2 separate regions of the Homo sapiens genome follow, and region 2 is linked to region 1. A link means that fine-mapping ties the variant in region 1 to the expression of a gene that starts in the linked region. Tissue or cell type: naive CD4 T cells. Region 1 holds a variant in brackets; the other region holds the start of a gene. All regions are shown on one strand. Distances are between the middles of the regions.

Region 1 (8,104 bases):
CACAAACCCACAAGCAAAAGTCTCATAGCAAACCGAAGACTTAGGTCCTTTAATAAATGGATCCCCATCTTGCCATTAGCAGTTCATCTCCTCCCCAGCAGTCCTCCTTACTATCCAGCCTCCTGGGGTCCACACACTACACATCAGAGTGCCGCCTCCAGGATTCAGGATTCTCAGACTGTCACCCCTCCTCTGCAGCCATCCACACCCGCCTCCCCTAAGAGGTGCTCCCCTGGCTTTGCCAGCCCTCCAGACCTCTGGCCCTCCGAATTCCTGTTGTATTTCTAATGCTCGTCACAGCATTCAGCACTCAATCAAAGCACTTTCCATGTGGATCACGGCAGATGTGTGCATATCTTGTGATGAGCAAGGCAGGCTCAATCACTGGGCTCTGATTCAGAGTTCCCAGGGAGCTGGAATGATGCAGGCACTTTGGGTGCAGGGATGGGCACAACGGAAGACAGATTGATAATAAAGTTCAAATGTCTTTGAAGATCATGTTTTGTTTTGTTTTATTTTATTTTATTTTATTTTATTTTATTTTATTTTATTTTATTTTATTTTATTTTATTTTATTTTATTTTTGAGACAGAGTCTCACTCTGTCACCAGGCTGGAGTGCAGTGGCATGATCTCGGCTCGCTGCAACCTCCGCCTTCTGGGTTCAAGCAATTCTCCTGCCTCAGCCTCCCGAGTAACTGGGACTACAGGCGCCGGCCACCACGCCCGTCTAATTTTTGCATTTTTAGATGAGACAGGGTTTCACCATGTTGGGCAGGATGGCCTCGATCTCTTGACCCTTAACACACACATACGTGTTGCATTCTACTCCATGATGTGTTCAAGTCTGATAGAGTATAAAACTGAGGTTTACATCATGTGCTGTAATGAAGAGAAAGTGACTGAGATTTGGCCCTCATCTGCCAGCACCCCACTAAGCACATATGGTGAGGCGTAGGAAGCACAGGTGTGCAAAGAATGCGGAGCACACAGGTGGAGCTCAGGCTCGGCTCCGAGGTTCACTGGGTCTTGGGACAGGTTTCTCCAAGCCCCAGCTCCCCGAACTGTAAGAGGGACCATGCCCATCTCCAGAGCCCATGTCACCGTTCAATGGAACGTGCCTGGCTTGCAATAGATGCTCACTAAATGTTGGGTTTCTTCCTTTCCCTCTTTCCATCTGGAGCCCACCTCTCAAGCACCATCAGGCCGGGACTCTTGGAGGAGGCTCAAGGAAAGAAATCAGCATGCAGAAGTCGGGGGAGGTGGCCAACCTGACCAGACGCCTCTGATCCTGCATCTCCTTTGCCCTATCTAAAGTCCTCCCCAACACTGCCTGGCCTGGACCCACTCCCCAGTGAATTCTGTAAGATGAGTGCCTCACTTCTCTGGTAAGTGTTACTGCAAACCGTTTTACAAAGAGATAGGCTGTTGCTGCCCAGCCAAGAGCAAATTCTGAGATTCCAATCACCTACATGCAGGGCTGGGAAAGGAACATGGACCTGCAAAGAGTGGCCCCTAAAATAATTTAGTGGCTGAAAACTAGGAACTTTGCAAATGAGAAGCCACAGTTTCAATATACTTTTTATGCACTTCTAGCAGAGAATCAGCTACGCTGATCACAGTGTTTTTCACTTGCTTGTTAGAATACAAGCTCCTTGGAGAACAGGTCATTTCTTATTCATTTTTATACATTGTATCTCCACATCTGTGCAGTTTCATGAGTAGACACCCAGGAGCTGTTTGTCAGGAGACCTTATACAAAGCAAATCCTTATTCCTATTGAATCCACCACTAATCGTTTCTAAATCAATTTTGTTGATACTTAGTTGACATATCTTGAAAGTTTAGAGATTTATTTTCTACAAAAGACATCACTTTCTCAGGAAGACTAACCTCACCAGAACCCCATTCTCCCAGCTCCTGCTCCAAGTCAGGCAGGGCCCTCCACTGTCTTCCCCCAAAATCCATCATGCCTTTGAAATTGTCTGTTTCTGTGTTCATTTGCCTTGTGCTTAATGATCGTTCCATTCATTTTTATACCTCCATTGTCTGTTCCAGTGCATGAACCGGAAGTACCACTTCAACACCATTCGGTGTATACGGACAGTGAAACTGCATTCCTTTGATGAAGGAATTTAAAATGTTTCATACACAGGAAGGGCTCATCTACAGGGTTTAGTATTTTTGTTATAATTCATTTTTCAGAATTTGTGGGGAGTGATACTAAATTTTGTTTCACAGGAAGAAAGGGAGGAGGGAAAAAGGAAGAAAGGGAGAGAAGGAAGGGAGGCAGGGAGGGAGGGAGGGACTCACAACGCCAGGAAGCTTTATAGACATCATCTCATGTAATCCTCATAACAAGATCCTGGGAGGGGGTACTTATTATCCCCATTCTGCAGATGAGAAAACTGAGGTATAGAGATGTTAAATAACTTGTCCAATTACTAAGTTGCAGAGATGGGATTCAAAACTGACTCAAATCTGAAAGTTCATGCCTTTTCCCTGCACTGTGTTTTCTCCTCTCATAAAACAGATCCTTCAGGACCCGGGGGGCACGATCTCCATGTACTGGCTTCTCTCAGGATCTTCCGAGCTGGCTGAGCTGGCTCTCCTGATGCTGAAACGTAAAAGTTCCCCTGTCCCCCTCGCAAGGCTTGCGATAGAGGGTGCGCCTCGCCTTTTCAATGCCGCACTGCTCAAACCTCTAGAGGCGCATACAGACGGGCAGGCTGTGGGGCTCCAACCCTACAGCAGTGGCTAGGGGTGAATGTTTACAGCTCCTGAAGCCTCAGTGGGCATGTGTTACACGGTACTCTTTTAAGAGTTTAGCTGTCTGCAGGCAGCTTGTGTTAGCTCAGTTAGATCCCCTTCCATATTATCACAAGGACAGAAGGATTTCTGTATCCTGGGGTTTCCTGCCTTGGTGTACTGGAAGAACCCGATCACACGTGAGCTTGGAGAATGAGTGCAAGGCTTTATTGAGTAAAAGTACCTCTCGTCAAACGGGGGAGCCAGAAGGGAGATGGTTTTCCTTGTGGAGCTGGGCCACCTGGCGGCCTAGGCTCTCCTCAGACTGCCCCGTCCAAACTCCGCCTCCTTCCGCGGGTCAATGGCCTGCCAGCATCTGTC[T/C]GAGTGCTCTTCTGCCGGCATGCTCCCCTTGATGTCTCTCGATGTCCAGCCGCTTGTCTTCTTTCATCGATTTGTTTTTCTCCACGTACAGCGGCTTGTGTGTCTGCCTGCTAGGGTCTCGGGTTTTTATAGGTCCAGGATAAGGGTGTGGAAGGTCGGCCAGGGTGGTCTTGGGAAATGCAACAAAAATGCCTGTCCTCACCAAGGTCCATGGGGGTGGAGCCCTAGCCAGGGACCACGCCCTCCTCTACCCTGCACTTCCCTTACCCCCTTCTGTATCATTTAAAGGGACCACGCTCTTCCCTTCCCAGCACCCCCATATCAAGGGTTGGTCCTCCTCCAGCAGCTATGTATCTGAGAGGCTCCTGATGCAATGGCTCAGCATCACAGTTGAAGGACACACACTCCTGCCTTAGAGCAATGGGGAGACCGGTTCCCACAGGAACCGGTTCAGCAAAGGCAGCAAGATGCCAGCCATCAGAGATAAAGGCTGCTGCCACCTATTGAACCTCACAGTGCACAGTAAGGACAGTCTCCAGGACTTCTCCCCCAGGGAGCTGAGCTTTGGGAGAGTAGAGAATTTGCATCAATCACTGAAAGAGACAGAGGGGCCCGTGCCTCTTACACCAGTAAATGGTATATATTACCAAATGCTGGAGGGCGCGAAATGTTTCCTAACTGTGTGATTAGGAATGTGATTCCCACCAGCGCAATTGATCAGGCCACTATGCTACTTAGAATCCTATTTGGGTTTTGTTGTTGTTATTAACGAAGCAGGAATGCAGAGATTATAAATATGATTATTTTACAAATAAGGAAATGGTCCTAGGGAGGTCACCAGAGTGGCCAGGCTCAGACTAGAATGTGTTTGAAATCAATTTATAAAAAATGAAGTCATTTTAAAGATGAAACTGGCATCTTTGCTTATTTTCTGAACTGTTCTCCTAATGAAGAAAACATATTGGGTATTACAGAACAAAGCTCATCTCTTTAACTGGCCAGGCTGATCCAAGAATTGAATACATGAACGACAGAAGGGACATTTTCATGGGGACTTTTCTCTTTAAGAGGCCCCCACGTAGTTGCCCCACTTCCACAAATGTTGCAAGCTAAAGAGCCATACAAATGTCTTAAGGGAGAATAGGGGCCTGATCCGTCTTGTGCCTCTGACTACTCATTTTCCTTATTAGTATAGGTGTGACCTCAGTGTGAATTTTTGCAGAAAAGTCTGGCAACATTTCCTGCTGAGCACAAACAACAAATTACGTGGGGAGGACATCAGCACGATATTCTTCCAAGGACCATGTTAGTCTTATTTGGTACTGCCATTCTCCAAAGGTATCGTGTTGCATGGACACATATATTCTTGGGGAGCATTAATTATTTTAAAAACATGAGTATATGCCAGCTGACATGTCCTGAGAATATTATTGCTAGTTATCCCCAAACTGCCCTACTTTCAGGACAGAGACTGTGTCCTGTACCTCTGTGGCCCCTGCCCTGGTTGTCTGCCCTACCGGAAGTGCTCGTTAAACTTACGGAATGACTGACTGATTGTGTGATGTTTATGTATTCAGCATTGCTAAACAGAGCGGAGGACAGAAATGGTGGTAGGTGTGGGGGGCTCAGGGCTGGGGACATGTCAGATATAACCATATTACTCCCTCGGGCCCTAACCCTAACTTTCCCAGCCTGATAAGTGGGGACTAAGAGGCATGTCTGTGAGAAACAACTGTCCTCACACCCTCTTATTAGTGTAACTCCCTCAAGTCCATTATGAAGGAATTTGTAGAGAAGCAGAGAAGCTGACTGTAAGCTCTGCGGCCCCAGGCAATTAATCTCTAGATGGTGCAGACCCGGGCTCCTGCCCCGTGCCCCCAGGTTGGAATGTGGGATTGCCCCTCGACTGCAGGTGTGGGTGGGGAGGGCCGCCCCTCGTCGGGCTTGAGTCTGTGATGTTGGAGCCGCCCGGCACTAAGAGGAAGCCCATTCTCCAAGCCCAGGCCAGGCCAGGCCGCACCGGCCCCGCTCCCGCATTGATCCTGGCCAAACGAACCCCCCAGCACCTGGGTCTCCCTTGCTGTAAACACTTTTATTTCACCCCTCGGTTTATGGCCTCCCCTTCCAAAGGATCACAACTTGTTTAAACCGGCTCTAAACAAAGGGCTGTCACGATTACAGACCTGCTGCTGGTTTTATGGTGGGCTTCCTTTGTCTAATTCTCTCCCACTCCCTTCCTTCCTCCCCACACCCCACGGCCAGGTACCCAGGCCTTTTAAGAGAGGCCTTCTAGCCAGCTGCTGGGAAGGGAGGGTGAGGGTGCGCTTCCGACTCTCACATCTGGTACCCCTCAGCTGGGGCTGGTTGCCCCCACAGGAGGGGGGGATAGGACAGGTAGGAATCCCAATGTTCCTGGGGTCAGGCTACAGCACGTCCCCCGCCCCCAGGAACGAGAAGAGGGTCTGAGGGTGTCCTCTGGGGGTTCACCTACCACACTGCCTTATAGGGGCCGGGTCCAGCGGGGCTGGGATAAAGAAGGATACCACAGGTACTGTTCTGTTCCTTCAGCCATCCAGACAAAGCCCACACGCCACTCAGCACTCAGGGAATGGTGGAGGCAGGTAGGACTCCTCAACAAGCCAGCTCCGCCCTGCCCAATGTGGGGCTCTGCCCATTGCAGGGACATCCAGACTCCGCTGCAGACACTGAGGACCCTCCCCAGGCACCTGGGCTGAACAGACTCCAGCTAGCATCCTTCTCTCCTTTGCTGCCTGCCTGCCGCTTTTCTCAAGAGGGTGCTAACTCCCCTACCGCCCCTCCCCCACCCCCCCCCCGACTGGGCTTCCTCTAGGAGGCTAGATGGGCAGAAGTGCTCAGGGATCCTGGGGCACCTGAAAGCAGGAAGGTTCTCCAAGGTTTGTTTGGGGCTCACTCGCACTCAGGAGAGTGGGCCATGGCTTTGGATAGAGGCACCACCTCTGCTAGACACTGGCCGCTGCAGACACAGGTCTCCCTCCCAGGGGCTCCCTGAAGACCAGGACAGGACAAAGACCAGGACAGGATGAAGGAGGCAGAATGACTTGTGGGAGGCAATGCAGTGGGGTCACATTTACTTCCCCTTGTTTCAGCCTGGGGAACGCCTCTTGGGAAAAAAGTATTTGTTCAGGGGACTGCAGTGAAAGCTTTGAAAGAAACCACTGGAACTGGCAGGCTGAGGCTGGGAGTGTGGAGAGAGGAGGTGTCAGACCCTCGCGTTTGCTAAACAGGCTGACTCCAGAGAAAGAAGGTTGTGTCCCCTTTATGCCCTGGTCACATGAACACACAAATGGCCTTAGGTTGGCTCAGGACGTGCTCCAAGGAACAGAAGGGGGACCCTAGAGACAGTGGGGGGTCACGAGGGACTGTCTTGATGCCCTTTCCCCATTGGCACATCTGGTCCTCTCTCCAAGTGTGCCATTCTGTACAGAACAAGTGGGGAGGTGAATCCACCCAGAGCTGGGCCTGACACACGGTGGACACATTTGAAAAATAAAGGTAATGTGATTGCTCTGCAGTTTCCAGTCTACAAAGAAAAAGATGCAGGAAGGCAAACACACAATCATCAGAAGGAATGTGGCGCCCCCCTGGGGATGGGATGGGAACAACGGTGCAGGAAAACCCCACGGCCTCTTCTTCCTGGACTCAAGCCTCTGAGTTAGAAGCCAGCCTGACTCCTAACCAGCGGCAGCCGAACAGCCCGTGCTCCAGCAACCTGGGCCAGTGCCGCCTGAGGGCAACCAGATTCCAGAGTCACTCCAACCTTCTGGAAATCCACTGTAGGCTGACCTTGCCCCAGTCCTTGCCTGTGTTCCTTCTCATTTTATAATAAAAATCCAGCATTTCTGTAGTGATTTTTTCCAGTTTAAAAATTGCTCAGTCACCATTTTTTCTTTTTTTTTTCAGAAGAGAAAAAGGACTTAGAAAAGTTAAATTACTTATTTTCCAAACTGAGCTATAGATTCAATATAATCCAAATAAAAATGCCAGAACGCTTTTTTTCTTTTTTTAGAAATCAACAATCTGTTTCCAAAATTTATATGGAAATACAAAAGCCCGAGAATAGGTAAGACATTCATCAAGAAGATTACAATTGAAGTTTCTACATTACTGGAAACCAAGACTTATTATAAACATACAGTAATTAAGACCAAGAGGTATTGATGCAAGGATAGAAAAATAACAGGCCAGGCACAGTGGCTCATGCCTGTAATCCCAGCACTTTGGGACGCTGAGGCAGGAAGATCATTTGAGCCTAGGAATTCAAGATCAGCCTGGGCAATATGGTGAAATCCTGTCTTTACAAAAAATAAATAAATAAATAAAAAATAAATAAATGCAGGCGTAGTGGCATGTGCCTGTAGTCCTAGCTATTTGGGAGGCTGAGATGGGAGAATTGCTTGAGCACAGGTCAAGGCTGCAGTGCGCCATGATCACACTACTGCATTCCAGCCCGGGTGTGCAGCCAGATTCTGTCTCAAAAAACAAACAAAAAACCCAAAGAGTCCAGAAATAAATCCACACATACATAGACAAAACTGGATTTATGACAAAACTTGAAGCTCAGAGGACAGAGGAAAAAATGGTCTTCATAATTGGTATTAGGGAAATTGGCTATTGGTATTTCTTTTTTTAAAATAAATTTTGGCCCCATCTCATACCATATACAAAAATCAGTTGCAGATGGATTGGTCATCTAAATGTGAAAGGTAAACGAATAAAGTTTCTAGAAGAAAATAGGAAAATATCTTCCTGGTCTTGAGGTGAGAGAAAACTCTTCCTAAACAGGACACTGAAATCCCTAACCATAAAAAAAAAAAACAAAAAAAAACAGATAAGTTGAACTATATTAACATTAGGAACTTTTGTTCATCAAAAACACAATTAAGAGAGTGAAAAGGCAGGCCAAGCGCAGTGGCTCACACCTATAATCCCAACAC
Region 2 (8,104 bases), 41 kb before region 1:
AAAGAATGGAGAGTCCAGGGAGCTGCCTTATCTTTGCTATGGGTCACTGGACAGACAGCGAGGCCACCTCTCCAGACAAGAACATGAGAGAAGATCAAACAGAAAAGTGAGCTCAGTTTGACTGTGACAAATTTGGGCCATGTGGAATTTTTTATTTATTTATTTCTTTAATAGAGATGGACCTGACCATCTTGCCCAGCCTGAACTCCTGGCCTCAAAGCAATCCTCCCACCTCAGCCTCTCAAAGTGCTGGGATTACAGGCATGAGCCACCACACCCAGCCTACCACATGGAATTTAAGAAGACACAGAGATAGCCAAGTAGCACTGTCCAGCGAGCAGTGGGAAACGGGGAACTACAGCTAAAGAGGGGCAGGGTCTGGGTTAGATCATGAGCTGGAAGAGTCATGTCCAGTAGTTCCTGGTTGCATGGCATTTCCTACCATCCCCACCCCCTACTTGGCCAGGATCCCCCACTGCTCCCAAAACAGATGACATTTTTAGTTTTGTTATGTAACTTTTAAGACTTCTTTACAAATAGGAACAAATACAAATATAGTTGCTTCCTGCCTACCCAACACCCACTACTCACCCCTCCCCCTACCCCCTAGCTTTTTTACACACATAAAAGTAGCCTAAAGAGGACTCTTCTGCACCTTGGTTTTTCAATTAAAGTGCCCTGGTGATTTTCTCATGGCTTTGCAGAGAGCATCTGCATTCATTTTCCTGGCTGTAGGGTATCCCATTGTGTTGATATACTTTAGCTTGTCCCCACCCATGAGCATTTTATGTTAGCTCAGCCTCCTGGGTAGCTAGGATTACAGGCACAAACCACCATCCCTGACTAATTTTTGTATTTTTGTACATACGGGGTTTCACCATGTTGCCCAGGTTTGTCTCAAACTCCTGGGTTCAAGTGATCTGCCCATCTCCGCCTCCCAAAGTGCTGGGATTACAGGCATGAGCCACCGAGCCCTGCCAGGCTTCACATTCCTGATCTCGTGAGTTAACATCAATCTTCTTACTGGGTCTATATGCCCAACACAACCCACTTCAAAAGCCTAAAAACAGGTCTCTACTTACACAAACGGCTTTTCTCCTGTGTGAGTCAGAATGTGGCGGCTCAGATGGTAGTCCCTGATGAAGGCCTTGCCACACCCTTCATAGTCACAAACAAATGGTCTCTAGCAGGAAAAAAGAAAAAGCATGTCACTTCTGCACTAGTTAGTAACTCTGGTATTATTTAAAAGCTTAAACTGCCTAGTGTTAAGGCCACAGGCTTCCTATGAAGAGGTGGTTTCTACTCAGAGCTGTGCACCCACTGCAAGACGCAGTGTTCCTGCACAAAGTTACACAACATAAACATCACAACTTCTCACAAAGTCACTACACAGATTTTTGTTCCATGAACAGCATTTAAAATAAGCAGGCATAGCATTTTTAACCTGCTCCCAACCCGGCAGCAGGCTTTCACAGCAACCCCCTCTTAAAGACGCCCTGGCTGTTAGCATGGCTTGTCTGCATGGATCCCCACCACCGCATGATTTAACATGTAAAAAAGCAAGCCTAGGGCAGAGGAACGAGGGAGGCCTGTCTCATCCCAGACAAGCCCAGGGTCTGTGCTAGGATAATGCCAAGCACAGCTATAGGAAAGTGTGTCACACCTGAAAAAGCTCACAGGTGCCAGGGCGAAGCAAAGAAAACAGCTCAACACCCTAAATGCAACCACCTTTTGTAACCCAGGAGTTGGGAGGGGGTGACTCATTTTGAACCTATAGTAAAAGCCAAACACACACCCCAAATAACCAAATAACCAGTTTGGTGCATCAAACTATGAAAAGCATACTACCAAGGCGTCCAGGAGGGAGGCACCGAGGCCTCCATGAGAGTACTAGGAGCAAAACAAGCAAACAGGAACACAGTGAGCTACATACCACCAGGGGCGGAGCCACAGAACCTTGCACAGCGGCAGGCGTGGAGTAGGCTCAATAAACATTTGTCAAATTAATCTGCATGAGAGATCTGGGACAACAAAGATGACTCCAAGTTTTTCAACCTGTATTAAGGAAACTGGTAGCGCCAGTATCCAAAATACAGCACACCGGTCTAAAAGGAAAGGCAAGCTCTTACGTGGATCTACTGGTAATACAGAGCCCAGAATTTAGAGGCTAGAACGGGCAAGAGGAAGGGCAGAGGGGCAAAGCATAAAGGATGTTATGAGTCATGCCGGTGGCTATGTAAGACCGCAAGAGGGAGCTGGGCGGGGTGGAACATGCAGAGGGCAGAAGAGGATCCAACGAAAAGGGCAGACGAGGAAGAGGAAAAGAACCAGAGAAGGTCTCAAGGAAGAAGCGGTCGGCCTTCCAGTGCTGGAGAGGTTAAGGAATGAGGCCCCGGAGGACACCTGGAGAAGGTGGCCCATAAATTAGAGGAGGTGCAAGGGGCAAAGGTATGGACTGCAGCCCAGTGGTTTAAGAAATTAAGGGCTTTAAGCTGAGGCAGTGTGAAGCCTAGCTCTGCCAAAAACTGGGAAGCTGGGCAGATTCCTTGACCTCCATGACCCTCGTTTTCCTCACTTGTGTGTGACATGGGCTGCCACGTCATATCATGGTATCTGACATTCTCCTGCCCTCAAAATAAAATCCAAACTCCTAATGGGCCTACTTCTCAGACCTCATATGGTGATCTCCGCACCCAAACACACCCACCTGCCTCCCACCCCAAGGGTCACAGGCTCCCTTTGTGTTCTCTCTACCTAGCACAAATGTCTGCATGGCTAGATCCTTCCTTCTTACACGGCTCACACAGAGAGGCCTTTCCTGACCACAACACTGCATGTCATTCCCACCTATCCTGTGGTCGGCTCGACCCAGGAACAAAGGTCCATGGCAGCAGAAACCTTGGGTTTGCCTGTTTTGCTCACTGCTCTCTCCAGTGTGGAGTTACGAAGAAATGAGCACATGCTGCTTTCACGACCCCTGGTACATGTAACCCATCTTCTGTACCAGCTCCAGGGGCCAGTGTTTGGCAGGTGTCTAGTAGCGGTGGGCCCCCTCAAACCTCACACTTATTTGCAGATTACGGGAGGCACTTGGCTGGCCGAGACTCACGATCAATGACTGCTTAGTAAATCCCGAGCCCCTGCCATGGATATCAAGGTCGCAGAACGAAGGTCCTACAACTTCCTGTCTACTTCCTCAGCTCCTTCCCCAAGTCCTGGATGTCAAAGCTGAACGCGCTGCACAGCGGGGCCTGCGGCCCTGGCCACGACTGCAGTGGCTACCCCGGGGCCACGCGCCATCCCTAGGCCCAGGGTTGGCAGCCTCGCCCCCCTCACCTCCCCCGTGTGCTTGCACAGGTGCGCGTCAAGCTTCCAGGCTTTGCTGTAATTGGCGCTGCAGTCAGGGAAGGAGCAGATGAACCTCCTGGGAAGCGCGGGGCGCGGCGGGGTCGGAGCTGAGCTCTCGCCGGCTGCAATGAACGCGTCGGCGATGGTCAAGGACGACACCGACTCGGCGACCACGGCCGGCGGATCCAGGGCGCCGGCGCCTCCAAGCCCAGGGCCAGGCGCGCTGCCACGTGCCGAGACACGTGCCGGGAACCGGCGCGCCCGGCCCACGGCTCCCTGCTGAACCTTCGCGCGACGCCGGCACACTTCCGGGAGCGCGCGCGGTCACCAGGCACCGCCCCGCGTCGGCGCCGCTGCTGCGCATGCTCCGGGAGATCGCGCATGCGCCAGGAGGCCCCGCCGCGGCTCGCGGCCCGTGCCCTGTCAGCCCTGGATGAGAGGCGGGGGTTTCTGCGTCCTCGGCAGAAGGCTGCTGCGTTTCACAGGCAACTCAAATCCCGAGGCACTGCTTAAATGGGGCTTGTTTCCCGTCCTCCAGTACACTCTGGAAAGCACTAGCCTTACATAATTTAAGTTAGCCTGTTGCCACATTACTAGTGTGACCTGTGTGGTTTCGTTTCTTTGCGTGCTTTACGTGCTTCTGCTGCAAGCCCCAGTTCAGAGGTTCCTAAGCTCAGATTCACGTGGAGAGCTTTACAAAATCCCGAAGCCTAGAGGATACTTGGACCACTTAAATCACAATTTCTGGGGGTAGGAAACAGGCATCAGTATTTTTGGAAACTTCCTAGGTGATTTCAATGCGCAGAAAAGTTTGGGAACCACTATCCTGGCACAGTAGTGCGCACCTGTAGTCCCAGGTACGCGGGCGAATCGCTTGAGCCCAGAGTGAGACCCCGAGCTCTAAAAGAATAAATACAGATGTCTCCCCATCCTACCCTTCCCCACCCCGGCAAACTGACCAGGTGGTTGGAAAAAAAAAAAAAAAAAAAGGAAAAGTTTGGGAACACTGCCCTAGAGCCTTGATGACCTACTTGAAACAAATCTCCAGGTGATTCAGTGCATATCAAAACCTGAGAAGCACTTTTGAGAGGCCTGAATGAATATGAGTATCTTAGTTTATGAGGACCACATGCCTAAAAAATGTCCTTGGATACAGATAACTGGCAGGATGACTTGGGGGATGTTCGCCAGATCCATATTTTTCACATCCTGCATTATTCCGAATCATTAAGCCCTTGTCGGAATGTGATGAACAGGTCCCTGCACAGCAGTGCAGTTCTGGAAACAAGCCAGGGCTTAACATCAGTGCTTATGAACTGAGTATTCCAGTTCATAAACACTCCTTTGCCTCAGTCTGCTCATCTTGAAAGTGGGAAAGTTGATAACGCCTGTGTCATCCTCCGTCTCAAGATAACGGGGCTGTGAGAGTGTCTATGCCTTGGGTCCACCTGTTGCTTTCTTCATTTGCCACTCTAGCCCCTGTCCATGGATGGGAGAATTCTACACTCATCCCTCCCACAACTCCGGAATTCTAAAATGGTTTCTCTTGCGCCAGTTCTGGTTTTCTCCTCCCCATGCCTCATGCCCAGGGCCAGGGTGCACGGTAAATCTCTGAGATCCTCCTTTCTTTTGGCCTTTCTTGGCCACTGACCCCATGCAGCATAGCCATACTCATGGCTTCCCCCTGCCTTCCTGACTTGTCCTGTCTCCTTGGACAATCGTTCTTCCACCTTTTTAGGTTGGTGCTTAGCCCTGTGCGCTGATGTATTATAGCAGGCGAGCGCTGGCTTTCAGCCTCAATCCCCTGACGTTGAATTCCAACTCTAAATTTACTAACTAGGATTTTGGATAAGGGCTCTTTGAGTTTCTTATCTTTAAACTGAGACTGTTAATACCCACCAGTAAGGGTCATTTTTAAAATTAAATGAAATTCTATTAACCAATAGTTGTATTTATTATGTGCCATCCCCTATGCTAGACACATTTACCACCAATCTACAGCTCTTCCAACAACTCTCCACGTAAAGCAGCTAATAGGATCCAGGTCACTCTGTATACTCAAAAACTTTTGGTCTTTTTTCTTTGTTCTTTCTCACCCTGTGATCCACAGCTCCACCTCCTTTCTCTCTGCAGTTTACTTCCCAATGTGTTTTTCTTTCTTTCTTTCTTTCTTTTTTTTTTGACAAAGTCTTGCTCTGTTGTCCAGGTTGGAGTGCAGTGGTGCAATCTTGGCAATCTCGGTTCACTGCAACCTCCACTTCCCGGGCTCAAATGATTCTCCTGCCTCGGCCTCCTGAGTAGCTGGAAGTACAGGTGCGCACCACCACACGTGGCTAATTTTTGTATTTTTAGTAGAGATGGGGTTTTACCATGTTGGCCAAGCTGGTCTCGAACCCCTGACCTCAAGGGATCCATCCGCCTCGGCCTCCCAAAGGGCTGGAATTACAGGCGTGAGCCACTGCGCCTGGCCCCCAATGTGTTTTTCTAATTTTTCTAATATCCCACATTTCTAGATGACAACTGGGGTTTGGTTTGTGTGTGTGTGTGTGTGTGTGTGTGTGTCTGTCTGTCTGTCTGTCTGTCTGTGTGTGTTTTACTTGAATGTCAGGCAGTCACCTTAAACTCAACATTCTTTGTAAGTCAATCTTACTGCCTTTTTCTGGCCACACCTCTTTTTGCCCTTTTTCTCTCTGTCAATGGTGGCATAATTCTGTCTCCAGCCACGAAAACTTATAACAGTGGTTCTCAACCCTGGCTGCACATTAGTCACCTGGAAGCTTTTGAAAATGCTGTTGCCACCATACCAGTGAAATGAGTCTCTTATTCAGGGTTGGAAACCATTGACAGTATCACCTGCTCTCTCCTCTGCACTTCCCTAGCTGGCCTCTGTACCTGTCCTTTCCATTTTCCTCCTTCCCCACCTCTGCTAGGCTTTTCTTTGCTCTAGGCCTTGACACCTGTAACAGCCTGTCAACAGATTTTCCTGCCTTTACACTCTCCCGCCTTTAGTCTCTCTTGCCTATAGCTGCCCGTGTCATCTCCCTAAAACACCCGAGACTTTATAGGTTTAAATTTACAACACTAGTATTTGCAAAGCATTTGTATTCCTGCTAGCTATTATTCCTACAAATCAGGTAACAATGCTCAGGTGGGACATGGAAGCCCAGGGTGCAGGCCTCCTCCAGGCCCCTTCCTACCTGAGGCTCAAGTCCAGGCCCAGATCAAGTTCTGCCTCCTCTAGATAAGCCTCCCCTGGTGACTGCAACCCGCACCCGCCCTCTCTTCCTTTGAACTTTTGTGGCCTTTTCTTTCTATAGTAATGCTCAAATGTGTTGGGCTATTTTTAACTATTTAGGCACATAATTTCTAATTTCTCTGATCTTGATTTAACCTCTATAAGGCTAGAGACTGGAAGATACTCTTTTCGAGTCCTCAGTAGCAAGACGACATGCATACATGAAGGGCTAACCTTATTATTTATTAGTTGAATGAACAACTATGAACTCATTGTGTGAAGCCTTAAAGATTTTACATGAATGTCTTCAGCAAGGAATCTTTTGTGTGCACGGAACATAATTCCATTCAAACTAATCTAATGAAAAGGGAGTTATTGTAAGGATACAAGGGGATCTCACGGGACCAACTACAGAAAGGCCTCAGGGTGGGAGAGTTGTCTGCAAACGCTTTGGGTCTCAGTCTGTCACTGTTGGGATCTGCTGTCCTCCTTAGTCTCACTCCCCCTTTGCTCTCCAGTCATCTCTTAGACTGCTGCATTCATGTCCTGTGTGCACATGTGTGTGCGTTGCTCAGCTCTCCCTCCCATGACCTTCCCTTTCCTCCCTCCTGCCCACCTACCCTCCCAGGTTTCATGTCCTCTCAGGCCCAGGCCTCTCCTTACCTCTGCCTGTCTCTCCACTCTCTTCTCTGCAGATCAGCTTCATCGGTAAGGATGAGTTTCTGCCTCTGTGATTGTAGTTTTCTGAGGGCTTTGGCTCCACTCAAGCAGCCCAGACCTTATGTAATCTGTTCCCTTAACTCCCCATGGCTAATGCCCCCTGAAAGAGAACCTTTGGCCCAATAGGGGTTCAAGCTCTTCCCCAGGCCCAAACAGCTTTGGTCTGGAGGGGATAAAACTGGGAGTCATGAAGGTCAACCTCGAAGGTGAACTTAAACAGAACTATGGTGTGCCTGCTCAAGTGAGTAAATGTCATGTATTAGCTGCCTTTTGCCATGTGGCTTTGTTTTGCCCGTAAAGAGGGCTGGAGATATTTTCTCACCCATTGTCTACGAGTCCATCCACATGACGTGCTTCCATTCTGTAAGTTGGAACTGACGGTGTGCAGGTTCCAAGCCTAGGCCTCAAGAGACCTCATGTATTGCTCCCTGTGCTCTGCCATTGCCACAAGGACCACATTTCTGCATCAGTCTGTCTCAGGAAAAAGACAGATGTGAGGGGCAAAGCCGAGCCATCTCAGCTGAGCCTTGCCTCCCATCAGCTGACCATCAGCCAATCCACAGATCTGTGACCATAAATGACTATAAGCCAATAGCTCTAGGGTAGTTTTGTTATGCAGCAATTTTGTGGCAGTAGCTAACTTCTACACCCTCTTTGCTGGTGCTTCCCCTCAGCCAATATATATGCTCAGATCTCTTTGTCTTAGCCTATTTTACATTGATATAAAGGAATACCTGAGGCTGCGTAGTTTATAAAAAAAAAAAAAGAGGTTTATTTGGCTGATGGTTCTGCAGGCTGTAC

Evidence for each region. PIP is the estimated chance that this variant, and not a neighbour inherited with it, causes the effect.
Region 2: GTF3A starts here. The variant in region 1 is fine-mapped to the expression of GTF3A in naive CD4 T cells (Schmiedel 2018, PIP 0.95).

The regions. Positions count from the first base shown.
Region 1 is chr13:27,378,800-27,386,903 of GRCh38, reverse strand. No RefSeq gene overlaps it. Among named protein-coding and RNA genes, the nearest start is that of GTF3A, 42 kb to the left of the region's middle. RefSeq lists an enhancer at 5,285-5,972 and a silencer at 6,898-7,085. The variant T/C (reference allele first, on the strand shown) is at 3,129.
Region 2 is chr13:27,420,171-27,428,274 of GRCh38, reverse strand. It overlaps GTF3A (general transcription factor IIIA), which reads right to left and starts at 3,656. Exons shown (of 9, transcript NM_002097.3): 1 at 3,337-3,656; 2 at 1,083-1,183. The coding sequence starts at 3,537. RefSeq lists silencers at 1-238, 3,312-3,391, 3,492-3,551, 3,562-3,831 and enhancers at 1,982-2,201, 3,152-3,221.